Linked DNA regions of Homo sapiens. The protein of the gene in region 1 purifies or fractionates together with the protein of each later gene. This does not show direct contact. Each region holds a gene or a part of one and is shown in the gene's direction. Other genes may lie near its edges.

Evidence for each region. Proteins that work in one complex are often made in the same cells at the same time.
Region 2: the proteins of TMEM255A (region 1) and KCTD2 purify together in Homo sapiens (affinity purification with mass spectrometry; 3 studies listed by BioGRID and IntAct, with this or other methods). This does not show direct contact.
Region 3: the proteins of TMEM255A (region 1) and TNPO1 purify together in Homo sapiens (affinity purification with mass spectrometry; one large-scale study listed by BioGRID and IntAct). This does not show direct contact.
Region 4: the proteins of TMEM255A (region 1) and MACO1 purify together in Homo sapiens (affinity purification with mass spectrometry; one large-scale study listed by BioGRID and IntAct). This does not show direct contact.

What each region holds. Positions count from the first base shown.
Region 1 is NC_000023.11:120,283,745-120,287,739, reverse strand, and holds part of TMEM255A (transmembrane protein 255A), read left to right. Parts: intron 1-517; coding exon 518-586; intron 587-2,043; coding exon of another isoform or gene 2,044-2,115; intron 2,116-2,524; coding exon 2,525-2,613; intron 2,614-3,995.
Region 2 is NC_000017.11:75,053,640-75,057,634, forward strand, and holds part of KCTD2 (BTB/POZ domain-containing protein KCTD2), read left to right. Parts: intron 1-3,995.
Region 3 is NC_000005.10:72,882,576-72,886,570, forward strand, and holds part of TNPO1 (transportin-1), read left to right. Parts: intron 1-488; coding exon 489-657; intron 658-3,995. UniProt on the Homo sapiens protein: Functions in nuclear protein import as nuclear transport receptor. Serves as receptor for nuclear localization signals (NLS) in cargo substrates.
Region 4 is NC_000001.11:25,437,312-25,441,306, forward strand, and holds part of MACO1 (macoilin), read left to right. Parts: intron 1-3,995. UniProt on the Homo sapiens protein: Plays a role in the regulation of neuronal activity.

The sequences.
Region 1 (3,995 bases):
TGCCCCTCCTCCTGAGGCTTGCTTCCTGAGCTCTTCCTTCTGAAAATGATGCGGAAATGACAGCAAGAGGTACAAGTCAGCCAACCATAGTCCTGTCCCCAGGTGATAATGAAACCTCATTGTTGGACTTGAGCTCTCTCTGCTTGAAAGTGTCATTTCATAATAACCTGGAGTTTTGCATCTTGTTCCCTGAGGACTGTTTACAAGAAGACAAAGGCCAGAAGTAAAAGAAAACCAGAGAGGAAATTTCAAGAAGCCCATTTCTCAATCAGTTTCATAATTTCTCATTAACCAAGTAGTCTAATAGAAAGTAATTTTTAAAGTATTTTTGTCTAATCTTCACTCAGTCTCCCTAGACAGGTGACTTTCAGAAATTAACCCAATCTACTGCCTGCCTGCTTCTGTGTGTGTGTGTGTGTGTGTGTGTGTGTATTCAAACCTTTTATTACCAAGTACAACACTTGCTGTTTTATTTTCCAAAGTCAAAACCCCTTTGTTTTGGTGTTTCCCTTTTCAGGATCTGAAACCACTCTACGCTAACCGGTGCCATTATGTTCCCAAGACATCACAGAAGGAAGCTGAGGAGGTGAGCCAGAATGAGGCTGCATGTCTTTACCTCCTGGGAAAGTCCCCTGTTCTGCCTGAAACACCCTTTCTTTTACTCCTTTTCATGGGCCTAAGTTTTATTTCTAGGTATGTATAGCTGATTTGTTCAGTGGGTCAGAGCACATTGCTAATGAGGCCATGGTCATAGGTTGGAGCCTCATGAGGCCTAATCAGTTTTACTTTGTTCTGTGGCCACAGGCTGACCCTCTGACCCCAGCCGGGAGCCTCCCCATATGTGGCTTTGATCCTCAGGGGGACAAATGAGAGTACAGAGGCCACAGGACATGACCCTCCCCCATCTCTGTGGATGATGGTTCAGTTGCCTGAACTCAGTGCTCAGTTGGAATAAAAGTGGAAGCCCCACCAGGGCACTAGGCCTGAACTACGGAGGCAGAGCCTGAGTTCCACACATAGGATGGGTCTGGAAGCCAAATGAGGGTAACTGAGAAGCCAGATCCACCTTTATGCTCTGGGGAGGCTGGGACTGTCAGCCTGGCCCCTCTCATAACACCTCCAAGAGGCCAGCCTAATAATGCTTGAGCATGCACAGATGAGTCTCTCTTCTGCCCCAAACAGCTCTCCTTATGTTCCATGTTGCCTCAAGCAGAGCTAGATGCAATGCGTAGTGAGGCAAAGTATGACTCCAGGTCATTTTTGGAGAGCTTTCATTTCAGTATACAATAATCCCTTCCCAACCCAGGGATTTCTCCATATGAAACTGTACCTAGGCTTCCAGGAATCTTGACAATTTTGTACTCTATTAACCTCACATTGAAAGTCAATCATTCCCAAATAGTTAGAAAAATGGTAAACTTTCAGTTGGGAAGAGAAAAGGAAGGCAATTGGATGTAAAATGGCCACTGCATTGCACAGCTTCAGGGGAAGCCATTTTACATAAAATACAATGTGAATGGGTGCCCTTGGAGTAAGGCAAAGCAGTCCTGCTCCAAAGGCACCATGGCAAATACTTTGATTATGTCTCTGCCATCCACTTGACTCCTTTTTCTTTTAACAACCATAAATTTACTATTTCTCTCACTGTTCTCAGGTTAGATAGGAGGAATAGAAATGCATATATGATAACAGCTTATCTGAAAGGCAGTAAGCATTTGGATGAAGGACCCAATATAGAAAAAAATGCCCATTTGCTATGAATATTCTCTATAACAAAGCAAGACAAATTTAGCAGCACTTCATTGCATCTGGATGGGGGAGAGAGCTGGACAATTTCTTGCTAACAAGAGATGGTAAATGAAATTCTTTTCCGTTTTTAAAACCTTTTTGCTAACTCAAAATGTGTAAAATGTCATTGCTGTTCTCTAGATTTTGTTGTGATAGCTTTCTTGCGTTAATTTGGTGACTGTAAAAATATTAATAATGACTTCCATAGGTTCACTTGTAACCCTGGTCCCCCTAACCCTATTTTTCCTACATAAGGTCATAAGTTCCTCAACCAAAAATTCTCCTTCCACGAGGGTTATGAGGAACCTTACCCAGGCAGCTAGAGAGGTACTATTGTACTTCAGAGTGCATGCGCCGGCTCCTCTGTCTTCCTTCCCACCTTATCTTCTTTCCTCCTGTACCCTGATTTTGCCTGCCCTCATATTCTCATTTCCTTCAGTCCATTTGTTCTTCCGTCTGTCCTTCCATCTGTCCTTCCTTCTCTCCATCTCCACCATTCAGGGATGGGGCACTGAGGGCTGTGGCAGAGGCTGGACATGAGCCCAGCTACACAGTGACTTGCCTCATGCACAAGTTCGGCCAGCTCCCCATCCAGCCCCATCCTTCCCACACATTGGGTGTTCATTTCAAAGCCATCCTTACTGTCTCCATCAGTCACTAACTCGCATTTCCAATCCCAGAGGGTCCTGCTTCCTATCCAATGCCAGCTCATCTCCTCACTGTTATATACCGTCAGGTTAACTGCCCTCACCTCAGCCGTGAATTCTGCACACCTCGCATCCGGGGCAACACCTGCTTCTGCTGTGACCTCTACAACTGTGGCAAGTAAGTGTTGAGGCCCAGACACAGGAATAATGGTCTGACCACAACGGACACTAGAAGGGCTGAGGTTAAGGAAGGGTGCATTGTGGGAATTAGGGAAGTGGAAGACATTGATCTGTTAACAGATTTTGGCTAACAGACATTACTTGCCTTCTCTGTGCCAGGCATCATGCTAGGTACTTTCACATACTTGATCTCATTTAATTCTTACTTATGATGTATGCAGAGTAATCCTCATTTTATAGATGAGGAGAGTGAAGTTCAAAGGAAACAGACAACTAGCCCAAGGTTACACAGAACTTGAAAATAATATGTATAGGATTCAAACTCAGCTCTGTCTATATCCAAGTTTAACAATGTTCAATAAATAGTTACTGAGTACCTTCTCGGTGCCTGGCTCTGTTCTAGACACTGAAGGTTCAGCAGCCAACAAAACAGAAGTCCTTTCCCCTGTGGAGCTTATATTCTAGTAGGGGAGACAGTCAACAAATACAGAAATATATAATATAATGCCAGGTGGTGATCAGAGCTCTGAAGAAAAATGAAGCAGGAGAGGTAGATAGTGATGAGGGGTGTGTGTGTGTGTGTGTGTGCGTGCACGTGCACATGCACGCACACTGTATGTTAGATAGAGTAGCCAGGGAAGGCCTCTTTGAGCAGGTGACATTTGTGCAGACCTGAAAGTAGTTGGGGGTGGGTGGGCAACCCAGGTAGATACCTGGAGAAAGAGTGCTTCAAGCAGAGGGAATAGCAAGTGCAAAGGTTCTGAGGCAGGAGCAGTTTTGGTGCTGGTTCTGCTACAGCCACTCTGGCTCTGTGCACTCCAAATTGCTAAAACATCCTTTATTCTTTCTTTCAAAATATATTTGGGCGCTAGGAATACAGAGATTGCCACTGAAGAGCTCGTAGACTAGTAAAGAGGATGGACATGTGAACAATCGATTGCAATATAATGTGATAAGTGCAGTGGGGATCAGTGGATGTGGTGGGGATTCTGGAGGCCCAATGAATGAAAGTCAGAGTTTGCCGGGAGGGAAAAGTGTCAAAGAGTAGGTGATATGGGAGCTGAGACTTACAGAATAAGTAGGGAATCAGGAGACAAACCAAAAGAAGACAGAGGTGGGAAGGATATTCCTGGTAGTTGTGAAGAGGTAGTGGGTGGAGGTAGTTACAGAAGGTGTGGTAGGAGGTAAGACAGAGGTGTAGCCAGAGATCAGATGATAGAGAGCTCATTGGCCATAGGAATGACTTCAGACTTGACCCTGTAGGCAACTGGGGGCCATTGAAGGGTACAGCATGGAAGATGGAATTGAGTGGTTGAGGAATGGAGGCAGCTAGGAGGCCATTGCAAGAGCGCAGGCCATAGAGAATGGAGCCTAGATCAA
Region 2 (3,995 bases), on another chromosome or scaffold:
ACCATGTTGGTCAGGCTGGTCTCGAACTCCCGACCTCAGGTGATCTGCCCGCCTCAGCCTCCCAAAGTGCTGGGATTACAGGCGTGAGGCACTGCGCCCAGCTTGGCCACTCTTTATGGAGATGAGCCTTTAGCATGTGATCGAGTCACATGCAGCTCCTGTGAGCCACTTGAAACCAGTCTCATGGGGTACGCTTCAGCAGCTGCTTGTGAACCATGCTTTTTTTTTTTTTTTTTTTTTTTTTTGAGACAGAGTCTCACTCTCTCCCCCAGGCTGGCCTCCCAAAGTGCTAGGATTACAGGAGTGAGCCACCACACCCAGCCTGAACCATGCTTCTAAGAACATAATATCAAGCTGCTCTTTATGATGGTGTCTTGATTTTGGCGGGGAGAGGGAGGACAAGGTCTCACTCCCGTTGCCCAGGTTGGAGTGCAGTGGCGTGATCACAGCTCACTGCAGCCTTGGCTTCCCAGGCTCAGGTGATTTTCCTACCTCAGCCTACCGAGTAGCTGGGACTACAGCTGCAAGCTACCACACCTGGCTAATTTTTTGTATTTTGGGTAGAAACGAGCCTTGTTGGCCAGGCTGGTCTCAAACTCCTGAACTCAAGCAACCCGCCCACCTCATCCTCCCAAAGTTCTGGAATTACAGGTGTGAGCTACCGCACCTGGCCTTGATTTTGATATTAACTCAGATACAGTAACAAGAGCGAAAGGGAATTTGCCCACCTAGTTAGAGGAAAGAAAGATGTTACGGCACATCTATTTCACATCCTGCCATTCGTCATATGTTTGTCGTGTGTTTGAATGGCCATAATAGCTTCTATTTGGCCCTTGGGATTCTGTAAGTAATTGAAAGTCCTTGCCCTCAAGAAGCTTGAAGTCGGCCGGGCGCGGTGGCTCACGCCTGTAATCCCAGCACTTTGGGAGGCCGAGACGGGCAGATCATGAGGTCAGGAGATCGAGACCATCCTGGCTAACACGGTGAAACCCCGTCTCTACTAAAAATACAAAAAAAATTAGCCAGGCATGGTGATGGGTGCCTGTAGTCCCAGCTGCTCGGGAGGCTGAAGCAGGAGAATGGTGTGAACCCAGGAGGCGGAGCTTGTAGTGAGCCAAGATCGCACCACTGCACCACTCCAGCCTGGGCGACAGAGGGAGACTCCATCTCAAAAAAAAAAAAAAGAAGCTTGAAGTATAGCCAGGAAAATAGACCCTCTCTTTCATGCGATTAGACTGTTTTAAGAAACTGCAACTACAGAGTTAACAGTAAGAAGGCAGAGTCGTGCTCCACCATGACTACCTGTGTTGTAGCATAATTGCCTCTTTTCCCATCAGATACTGGTAGTAGATGCTTTAGGTATAATCTATTGCAGCACAGAATTTTCCTGCCATTAAGAAGGCAGGAAAATTATTCTTTTTTCTTCTTTTTTTGAGGCAGAGTTTTCCTCTGTCACCCAGGCAGGAGTGCAGTGGCATGATCTCGGCTTACTGCAACCTCTGCCTCCCAGGTTCAAGCGATTCTCATGTCTCAGCCACCTGAGTAGCTGTGATTACAGGTGTGTGCCACAATGCCTGGCTAATTTTTGTATTTTTAGTAGAGATGGTGTTTCGCCATATTGACCAGGCTGGTCTTGAACTTCAGGCCTCAAGTGATCCACTTGCCTCAGCCTCCCAAAGTGCTGGGATTACAGGCATGAGGCACCATGCCTGGCATAAGTTTACTTTTAAAAGTAAAAAATAATGCCTTGGTCTTTCTATGTTAGATTTCATATATCAAAGTTTTCTGGCTCTAGGCCAGGTATGGTGGCTCACGCCTGTAATCCCAGCACTCTGGGAGGCTGAGGAGGGCAGATCACTTGAGGTCAGGAGTTCAAGACCAGCCTGGCCAACATGGTGAAACCCTGTCTACTGGCCGGGCGTGGTGGCTCATGCCTGTAATCCCAGCACTTTGGGAGGCCGAGGCAGGTGGATCACCTGAGGTCAGGAGTTCAAGACGAGCCTGACTAACATGGAGAAACCCTGTCTCTACTAAAAATACAAAAGTAGCTGGGGTGGTGGCACATGCCTGTAATCCCAGCTACTTGGGAGGCTGAGGCAGGAGAATGGCTTGAACCCGGGAGGAGGAGGTTGTGGTGAGCCGAGATCACGCCATTGCACTCCAGCCTGGGCAACAGGAGCGAAACTCCCATCTAAAAAAAAAAAAAGAAAGAAAGAAACCCTGTCTACTAAAAATACGAAAATTGTCTGAGTGTGGTAGCGGGCGCCTATAATCCCAGCTACTTGGGAGGCTGAGGCAGGAGAATCGCTTGAACTAAGATAGCAGAGGTTGCAGTGAGCTGAGATGGCACCACTGCACCCCAGCCTGGGCAACAGAGTGAGACTCCATCTCAAAAAAAAAAAGTTTTCTGGCTCTAACTGGAATATTTGGATGAATAACTGACACTAATGATGAAAAATTAACTCTTTTATCCACTTTATCTCCAGCAGTTTGCAAAAGTGAAGAGAAGGGCTTATTCATTTAGTTTTCTTCCATCTAGCTGACAGCTCAAAGGCTCCTTTTTGATGTTCAAAGGTGGCTTTGTAGTTGGTTTGCAGATTACCACTTGGAATGTGATCCAGTGTCACCAGTCTCTTTGCTATCTTACCTTTACGTGGTATCTTTCACTATTGTAGATATTTAATAGTTTAGACATTTTGGTAATCTAGCCTTATCCTCAGTTTCCCACATTCTAAAAAAATGATTGCTTACTATAGATTTTAAAGTACCATGAATTATGTAATTTGAAATGATTCAAGTCATGGTACCTGAACATTCTCCCTTCTTCGTCATTAGCTAATTCCTGGAGAGCATTATAAGATTTCTGTTTGATGACCGCAATTAAATTAATTAGTCTTCTAGATTCTGAAGGCTTGTGGATTTATACCCCTTTGGAAGCTTTTTTGTTCTAGGAATGTCAAGACCTTTTTGATGTTAACTATCTTTCCATCTGTCCTTTTTATGTAGTGAAACTGAAAAATGGATTTGATGTTATTCAAAGACACCCTCTTTTATACTTGTTGTATGTGGCTCTAAGATGAAGTTGGCTGTGTGTGGATTTTCGTTTTGTTTCATTTTGTATTTTTCTTTATTTTTTTGTGTGTGGATTTTCAAACATGTTACCTCCTTGAACTTACCTGTAGCCCCTCACACATGCAGGATTCAAGCCAAGCCCAAGATGTGGGCCTCAACCCTACCTTCGGTTTCATGACCTCTTAGCTCTTAGTGGCTGCCACCTAACTACTTTCCTCTGTTTCTTTTTTTTTCTTTTTTCTTTTTTTTTTTTTTTTTTTGGAGACAGAGTCTCGCTGTGTTGACCAGGCTGGAGTGCAGTGATGCGATCTCAGCTCACTGCAACCTCTGCCTCCTGGGTTCCAGCGATTCACCTGCCTCAGCTTCCCGAGTAGCTAGATTACAGGTGTGCACCACCACGCCCGGCTAATTTTTGTATTTTTAGTAGAGACAGGGTATCCCCATGTTGGCCACACTGGCCTCAAACTCTTGATCTTAGGCGAGCCACCAACCTCAGCCTCCCAAAGTGCTGGGATTACAGGCGTGAGCAACCATACCCAGACTCCTATTTCTTAGAATAGTATTTTTTGTAGGTGATTGATCCTGGTGCATTTGAGAGCACAAGTGGTTTACTTTGGAAGGGAGAAAAAAGAGGCAGTATAATGGCATCTTAAATACCTGGGACTTTGACAGCTGTGGCCAACATCACAGATCTTTTGTGATACTCTGAATTTTGTACTTATACAATTGGTTTCCAAAATAAGTGGTTACAACCAATTAAAATCTTCAGAGGATTTGTACTATATGTAATATGGAAGGAAATCTTTGAAATCCTTAGTACTTTGGTTAATGATAGCTATACCTCTTTTTTTTTTTTTTTTTTCCTCGAGGCAGAGTCTTACTCTGTCGCCCAGGCTGGAGTGCAATGGCGCGATCTCAGCTCG
Region 3 (3,995 bases), on another chromosome or scaffold:
TAGTACATCTTTGGATTTGGCCAATAAAACATTCATTGAGAATAGATCTCCTGTAAATAGACTTCCTATTATCCATAATAGGATAGAAGCATAAGTTTAAGTAATGATAAATTCTTGCTTAATTTGGTACTAGATGGTGACATTGGTAGGGTTATTATTAATTTCCCCTTAATTACTTGGAGTTATTTTAAAAACATTCTTATATATGCTGCTCTGAATTTGATTCAGGTAACTTAGATTATACCAGCCAGTGGAGGCCATGTAGTTGGCTGAAAGGGCCGTATAACCTAACAGGTGTGTTAGGTCAGTCTATTCGCCCCTCCATAAGGAATATGTTCTGTACATGGGCGTGGTTCTTAATCACTCTGGAAGTATATTTCAGAATTCTGTGCATGACCCCATCTCTGGATATTCTGTTTCTCTTACTCATGTACATACTATTAGCCTATAATGAATGCCACCAAAAATTTCTCTTAAAAAAACAACAGGGTGATGTTGAAGAAGACGAAACGATTCCTGATAGTGAACAGGATATACGGCCACGTTTTCACCGATCGAGGACGGTGGCTCAGCAGCATGATGAAGATGGAATTGAAGAGGAAGATGATGATGATGATGAAATTGATGATGATGATACAATTTCTGACTGGAATCTAAGTAAGTCAGAAAGGGAAAAGCACAGTTGCCTACTTTGATGATAACTTTATTGGGGTATAATTCATCTACTGTACAGTTTACTACCCATTAAAGTATACATTTCATTGGTTTTTAGTATATTCAGAGAGCTGTTCAACCATTACCACAATCAGTTGTAGACTATGTTTTCATCACCCATACCCTTTAGCAGTAACTCCCTATTGTTCACTGGCTCTGGGCAACTACTAGTCAATATTCTGTCTCTGGGTTTGCCTATTCTAGACATTTCATGTAAATGGAGTCATACAATGCATTGTCCTTTGTGACCATCTTCTTTAACTTAGCATAAAGTTTTCACGGTTCATTTTGTAGCATTCACTTGTATTGTGAAATAATATTTCATTGTAATATGCCACATATTCTCCATTCATTGGTTGGTGGACATTTGTGTTTCTCTTTTTGTAGCTGTTGAGTTGTGATGCTATAAATACTCATGTATAATTTTTGTGTGTAGACTTTTTTTGTTTGTTTGTTTGTTTTTTTGTTTTGAGGCAGGGTCTCTGTCACCCAGGCTAGCATGATTATGCAGTGGCGCAGTCATGGCCCACCGCAGCCTTGACCTCCCTGGGCTCTGGTGATCCTCCCACCTCAGCTCCCCAAGTAGCTGGGACTACAGGTGCTCACCAATACACCTGGATGAATTTTTGTTTTTTTTTTTTTGGTAGAGACAGTTTTGCCATGTTGCCCAGGCTGGTCTTGAACTGTTGGGCTCAAGCGATCCACCCGCCTTGCCCTCCCAAAGTGCTAGGATTACAGGCGTAAGCCACTGTGTCTGGCCCAATGTGTATTCAGTTCTCTTGGGTAAACACTCAGGAGAAGGATTGTTGGGGTCATATGGTAACTGTATGTTTAACCTTTTGAGAAATAACCAGGATGTTTTCCAAAGTGACTGCACCATTCTGCTTTCCTAGCAGCATTGTCTGGAGGGTTCCAGTTTCTTCACATGCTCACTTGCTTTATTATCTCTTTATTATTATAGTCATTCTAGTGGACGTGAAGTGGTATTTTGTGGTTTTGGTTTGCATTTTCCTGGTGGACCTGCTCTTATTTTATCATTATTATATTCTTAAACTACCATTTCTCAAAAGGCTGTTTGTTTTAATACTGTAAGAACATTGCCACAAGCTTTTTTGGTTTTTCTAACATGAGTGTTTTCTGTCTGGTAATTTGCATGAAAATTGGCTATCATAGGTAATTCTAAAATAATATAAGTTGCTTTATTATATTCAAATTTATTATAAGTTGCTTTGTTATAGTCAAAATTTATGAAATATGCTTCTTAAAATATGTTAATTTCCAACCTTAGCTGCAAATCATATCACCTGTGGAGCTAGCATTCTGGCCCACGCTTCCTAATTGGGGATGAACCTAAACACCTGTGTTCTGATTTTGCTTGCTTGTTTGCTGGATTTTAAACCTCTACTGCTCTAGTTCAGGGTTTCTCAGCCTTGGCACTATTGGCATTTTGGGCCACATAATTCTTTTTTTTTTTCTACATGTGAATGCCACATCATGCATGTAATTCTTTGTTGCGGAGGCTGTCCTGCACGTTGTGGGATGTTAAGCAGCATCCCTGGCCTCTACCCAAAGATGCCAGCAGCACAAACACAGTTGTGACAACCGTTATCTCCTGGGGGAACAAAATCAACCCCAGTTTAGAGCCACTACTCTAGTTCAAAGTGTTGGGATTTCTAATAACTATGATTAAAGCAGTTAAGAACAGACATTATCAGTCTGGGCTGTGTTCTTCATTTGGTTAGATAATGCTAATTTCTCTGTTGCCTCTTCAGTTTCCTGTAACTAACATTCTATTTAGAGTGCCTAATGTGCCAGGCACTAGGCCAAGGACTTTGCATGCATATCAAAGTCTGTTTAATCATAAGTAAGAATAAAGTCATATTTAACATTTCCAACAACCTTGAATAGGCAAGAAAACTGCAGAAAGAGAGATATACCCAAGGTTAGCATAGCTAGTACTGATAGCACATCTAGTACTGGGACCCAAGTCTCACTTGTTAAGACAACACATGGTGTTTACTACTATTACAAATTACTTCCCAGTGTATCCCTACTTTCAGATTAGGGGAGCAGGATGGCTCAAGATCATTACACAGAAAACTCTACAAAATAATATACATACATGGATGGGGGAACACTTCCTCTTCACATCCCATTCTTTGTATCCTTCCAAAAGCTTTTCTGTGCGTGCTTGGGAAAACATACAGGCATCTTTTTTAGAGGAGAAGCCAGTTTTCTAAAAGTGAAATCAGATTATATGTACTCTGCTGCTTTCTTTCTGTGTATCGTATGCCTCATTCTTCCTCAGTACATACAGATTTAGATTTCCTTTTGTTGCATGTCAGTGTACTGTTTAGTTGTATGGCTCTACCATGTGGTATAACTAAGATCCTTATTGATGGGTAAGGTGTTAATTTCTGGCCAATGTAATGGTTTTGTTTTGGTTTGGTTTGGTTTTTTTTTTTTTTTTTGAGGATTTTATTATTGTCTAGTAGTTTGTGATTAGCCATTTACTATGCCTAGTTCACGTTGGAAATTTCTGATATTTTCTTAGTCCATTTTGTACTACTATAACAGGATACCTGAAGTTCAGAATGGAGGGGCTGCATCTGGTGAGAACCTCCTTGCAACATCATCTGATGACAGAAGGACACACTTAAGAGCTCAATTCACGCTTATAATAAGCCAACTCTCTTGATAACTAACCCACTCCTACAGTAACGACATTAACCCATTTATGAGGGCAGAACCCTTAAGACCTAATCATCTCTTGATAGGCCCCACCTCCCATCTTCGTTGCTTTAGGGATTAGGTTTCTAATACATGAACTTCAGGAACACGTTCCTACCCATAACAGTTAAATGATATTTTTGTTGTTCTTTTTGATTTTGTTGCTCTTGTCTAAATTATTATTATAATAAAATCTGGGTTGATTTATAGTCCCATAGTTAATTCTTTGTAAAGAGTATTTTCTAGCATGCGTTATGTTTCATGTGCCAGTGACTTTTCTTCCAGTTTTTGTGTCTAAAGTCCAGCTAAGTAATTGTCTGTTTAATTCTAGATGATATACTGCTGGAAATGTTAAGTAGAGTTAATAATGTATGTTTTTTGCGTGATTGTAACAGTGATTGTAATCATGATTGTAATATGAGTGTATCATATTGAATGGTTATGTTAGAAGCACTGAATTGAGTGGCACAGTATTTGTTTTACTGTATAGACAGAATTCTAGTATGACAGTTATGTACAGAATACAATGTGTTCACAATTAATTTGCCAAG
Region 4 (3,995 bases), on another chromosome or scaffold:
TTTTTTTTTTGCGTTTTTGCGTTTTTATAAAGATGGAGTCTCGCCGTGTTGTATAGGCTGGTCTTGAACTCCTGGGCTCAAGTGAGCCACTCACCTTGACCTCTCAAAGTACTGGGATTATAGGCATGAGCCACCGCACCCACCCAACACTTTTAAAAACCAAATAAATAGCTGAGTACTAAAATCAGTACTTTGCCTATCTTGTAGCAAGAATAGTTGAACATTAAAGAGAATGAATACTATGTTCATGTCCAAAGTAAGGATTCCTGTCTCAGAAAAGAGAGATACTGTCTGAGGCTTGAGTCGTCTTGCTCAGATGTAATAAGAATTTTTGGCCGGGTGTGATGGCTGTAACCCCAGCACTTTGGGAGGCTAAGGCAAGAGGATTGCTTGAGTCCAGGAGTTCAAGACTAGCCTAGGTAACATAGCGAGACCTCATCTCTACTAAAATTCAAAAAAATTAGCTGGGTGTGGTGTCACATTCCTGTAGTCCCAGCTACTTGGGAGGCTGAGGCGGGAGGATCACGTGAGCCCAGGAGTTTGAGGCTGCAGTGTGCCATGATCGTGTCACTACACTCCAGCCTGGGCAATAGAGCAAGACCCTGTGTCAAAAAAAGAGAATTGGCTGGGCGTGGTGGTTAATATAATCCCAAAGTGCTGATATTATAGGCGTGAGCCACCATAATCAGCCCCCAATTTAAAGGAAAAAAAAAATCTAGAATGGAAATCGCTAAAAAAGGTTTTCACGGTTTTGTAGTATAACATTTTTATAAAGGTCTGTATAGACCACAGAGATATCAAGGACAGGTATTGTAACCTAATGCAGGTGGTGAGTTTTAGAATTTCTGTTTCAAGAATACTTTTAACAGTGTGGAGTCTATGGGGTTGAGGAAGGGGAGGGGTGAAGAAGCATAGGCGGAGAGAGAAAACAACTCACAGGCTCTAAAAAAACCTGTTAACATTATATAAACATTAGAAATTCATTTCATAAGGGAATCAAAATTATGCTTCATATAATTGATAGTAATAATCTGCTTAATCACACCTTACATTTCTGTCTTACTTGTAACTTTTCCAAATGTTTTCATATTATCTCATTTTATCCTCACAAGTGTGAAATAGGCAGAGTAGGTATTGCCATTTTATAGGAAACAAACCTGAGGAATAGAGAACTAAAAAGCTGCAAGGCACTATTGAAAGAGTACAGAAACAGAAGTTAGGAGACTGCAGAGAACAGTGTAAATTCTATGTGGAACTCTATGTTGCTGCTAAAATGGATAAGGGAAATTCTATATAAAGAAGTGGACATGACTGGGCCCCGTGGCTCACGCCTGTAATCCCAGCACTTTGGGAGGTCGAGGCGGGTGGATCACCTGAGGTCAGGAGTTCAAGACCAGCCTGGCCAACGTGGCGAAACCCCGTCTCTACTAAAAATATAAAAATTAGCTGGGCGTGGTAGCATGCGCCTGTAATCCCAGCTACTTGGGAGACTTGGGAGAACTGCTTGAACCCAGGAGGCAGAGGTTGCAGTGAGTCGAGATTGTGCCACTGCACTCCAGCCTAGGCAACAGAGTGAGACTGTCTCAAGAAAAATAAAATAAAATAAAAAACTAAAAAAAAAAGAAGTGGACATGTCAAACAGAAACCTGTTTTTGTTAAGAAAGAAACACATTTGTTTATATAGAAAAAGCAAATTATATTTATGAATTATATAACAGCAATCATCTTGGGGCAGGACTACTAAGGGCTTTTATATTATACATTATATTACCTTTTTAATAACAAGTATGTGTTGCTTCTTTTTAACTTCTCATTTTGAAATAATTTTAGATTTAATTAAACAGAAAAGTCACAAAAATAGTACAAAGTACTTACACCTTAGTGAAAGGCATAAGATACCCTATTTATTTATTTATTTATTTTTAAAGAAAAAAAATAGCCAGGCATGGTGGCTCTTGCCTGTCACCCTTGCTACTTGGGAGGCTGAGGTGGGAGGATCGCTTGAGCTCAGGAGTTGGAGGTTGCAGTGAGTTATGATCACACCACTGCGCTACAGCCTAGGAGACAGAGTAAGACTCTGTCTCTGAAAAAAATAAACAAACAAAAAAGGGCATATTTCACACTGTTAGATTTGTCATTGCAGTGGCTGCACATGTACGCGCGCGTGTGTGTGTGTGTAATTGACACTAGAAAGGTTCCCTTTGCAGTATGCAGGAGGCCTAGAATAGAAAAAAGAAATATAGAACAGCTTGGTCTTCTCAGCCTGCTCCCCTTTTTTGGATTTTATACAAGGAGGTGCCTGCAGAATGCAGCAGTGGTTCCAGTTTATTTTATGTTAAGGCTCACACACAAATTTCTGTTTTTTTTTTTTTTGTCAAAAAATTTTTTTGTCTCTGGATCTCTTTACACTCTTAAAAATGATTGAGGCTGGACACTGTGGCTCACACCTGTAATCCCAGCACTTTGGGAGGCTGAGACAGGTGGATCACTTGAGGTCAGGAGTTTGAGACCAGCCTGACCAACTTGGAGAAACCCCGTCTCTACTAAAAATGAAAAATTAGCTGGGCATGGTGGCGCATGCCTGTAATCCCAGCTACTTGGGAGGCTGAGGCAGGAGAATCACTTGAACCCAGGAGGCAGAGATTGCGGTGAGCCGAGATCGTACCATTGCATTCTAGCCTGGGCAACAAGCGAAACTCTGTCTCAAAAAAAAAAAAAAAGATTGAGAATATCACAGAGATTTGGTTTATATGGATTATATCTATCAATATTTACTGTATTAGAAATTAAAACTGGCTGGATGTGGTGGCTCATGCCTGTAGTCCCAACACTTTGGGAGGTCAAGGTAGGAGGATCACTTGAGCCCAGGATCTTGCTATGTTGACCAATCTGGGCAACATAGCAACATCCCATCTCTACAAAAAAAAAAAAAAAAAAATTAGCCAAGCATGGTGGTATGTGCCCGTAGTCCTAATTACTCTGGAGGCTGAGATAGGAGGATCACTTGAGCCCAGGTTGAGGTTGAGGCTGCAGTGAACTATGATTGTACCACTGCACTTCAGCCTGGGCAACAAAGGAAGACCCCAGTTCTGGGAAAAAAAAAAAAAAAAGAAGAAAGAAAAAAGTTAAAATAGAAAAATTTAAAACATTAGTTCACTTAAAAGTACCAATAAATTGCTGAGCACAGTGGCTCACGCCTGTAATCCCAGCACTTTGTGAGGCCAAGGCAGGCGGATCACCTGAGGTCAGGAGTTCGAGACCAGCCTGGTCAACATGGTGAAACCCCATCTCTACTAAAAATACAAAAATTAGCCAGGCATGGTGGTAGGCACCTGTAATCCCAGCTACTTGAGAGGCTGAGGTGGGAGAATCACTTGAACTGGGAGGTAGAGGTTGCAGTGAGCCAAGATTGCGCCATTGCACTCCAGCCTGGGCGACAGAGTGAGACTCCATCTCAAAAAAAAAAAAAAAAAAGAAAAGTAACAATAAATTAATAAATTCATGAGAAGACTGGTGTGGTTTTACATTTTTGCATAGCTCTTTAGTGTCTGGCTTACTAGAAGATACTTTGAGAACCACCGCTGTCGTCAGAGCCAGTGGCAGGTAGGCCAAATGGAGTGATAGTCTGGCACCCAGAACAAGGCTTATTAAATTAGTTTCTTCATAGTGAAGAACATTCAGAACAGATGGGAGCAGGTTCATGGTAATCGTTCAGGCAGAAGCTGCATTGGTTATCTTGGTTGTTGTTGCTTTGTCCAGACACCTTCCCAGTCAGTCACCTGTGTGTCATCTCTCCCTCTATATTCGTTGTAAGTATGTGCTTTGGTAAAAGTCCTACTGTCAGTCCTAAACACTTTTCTACATTACAGATCATTCATTCAACATTTTTTTTTTTTGAGACGGAGTTTTGCTCTTGTTGCCCAGACTGGAGCTCAGTGGTATGATCTCGGCTCACTGTAACCTCCACCTCCTGGGTTCAAGCGATTCTCCTGCTT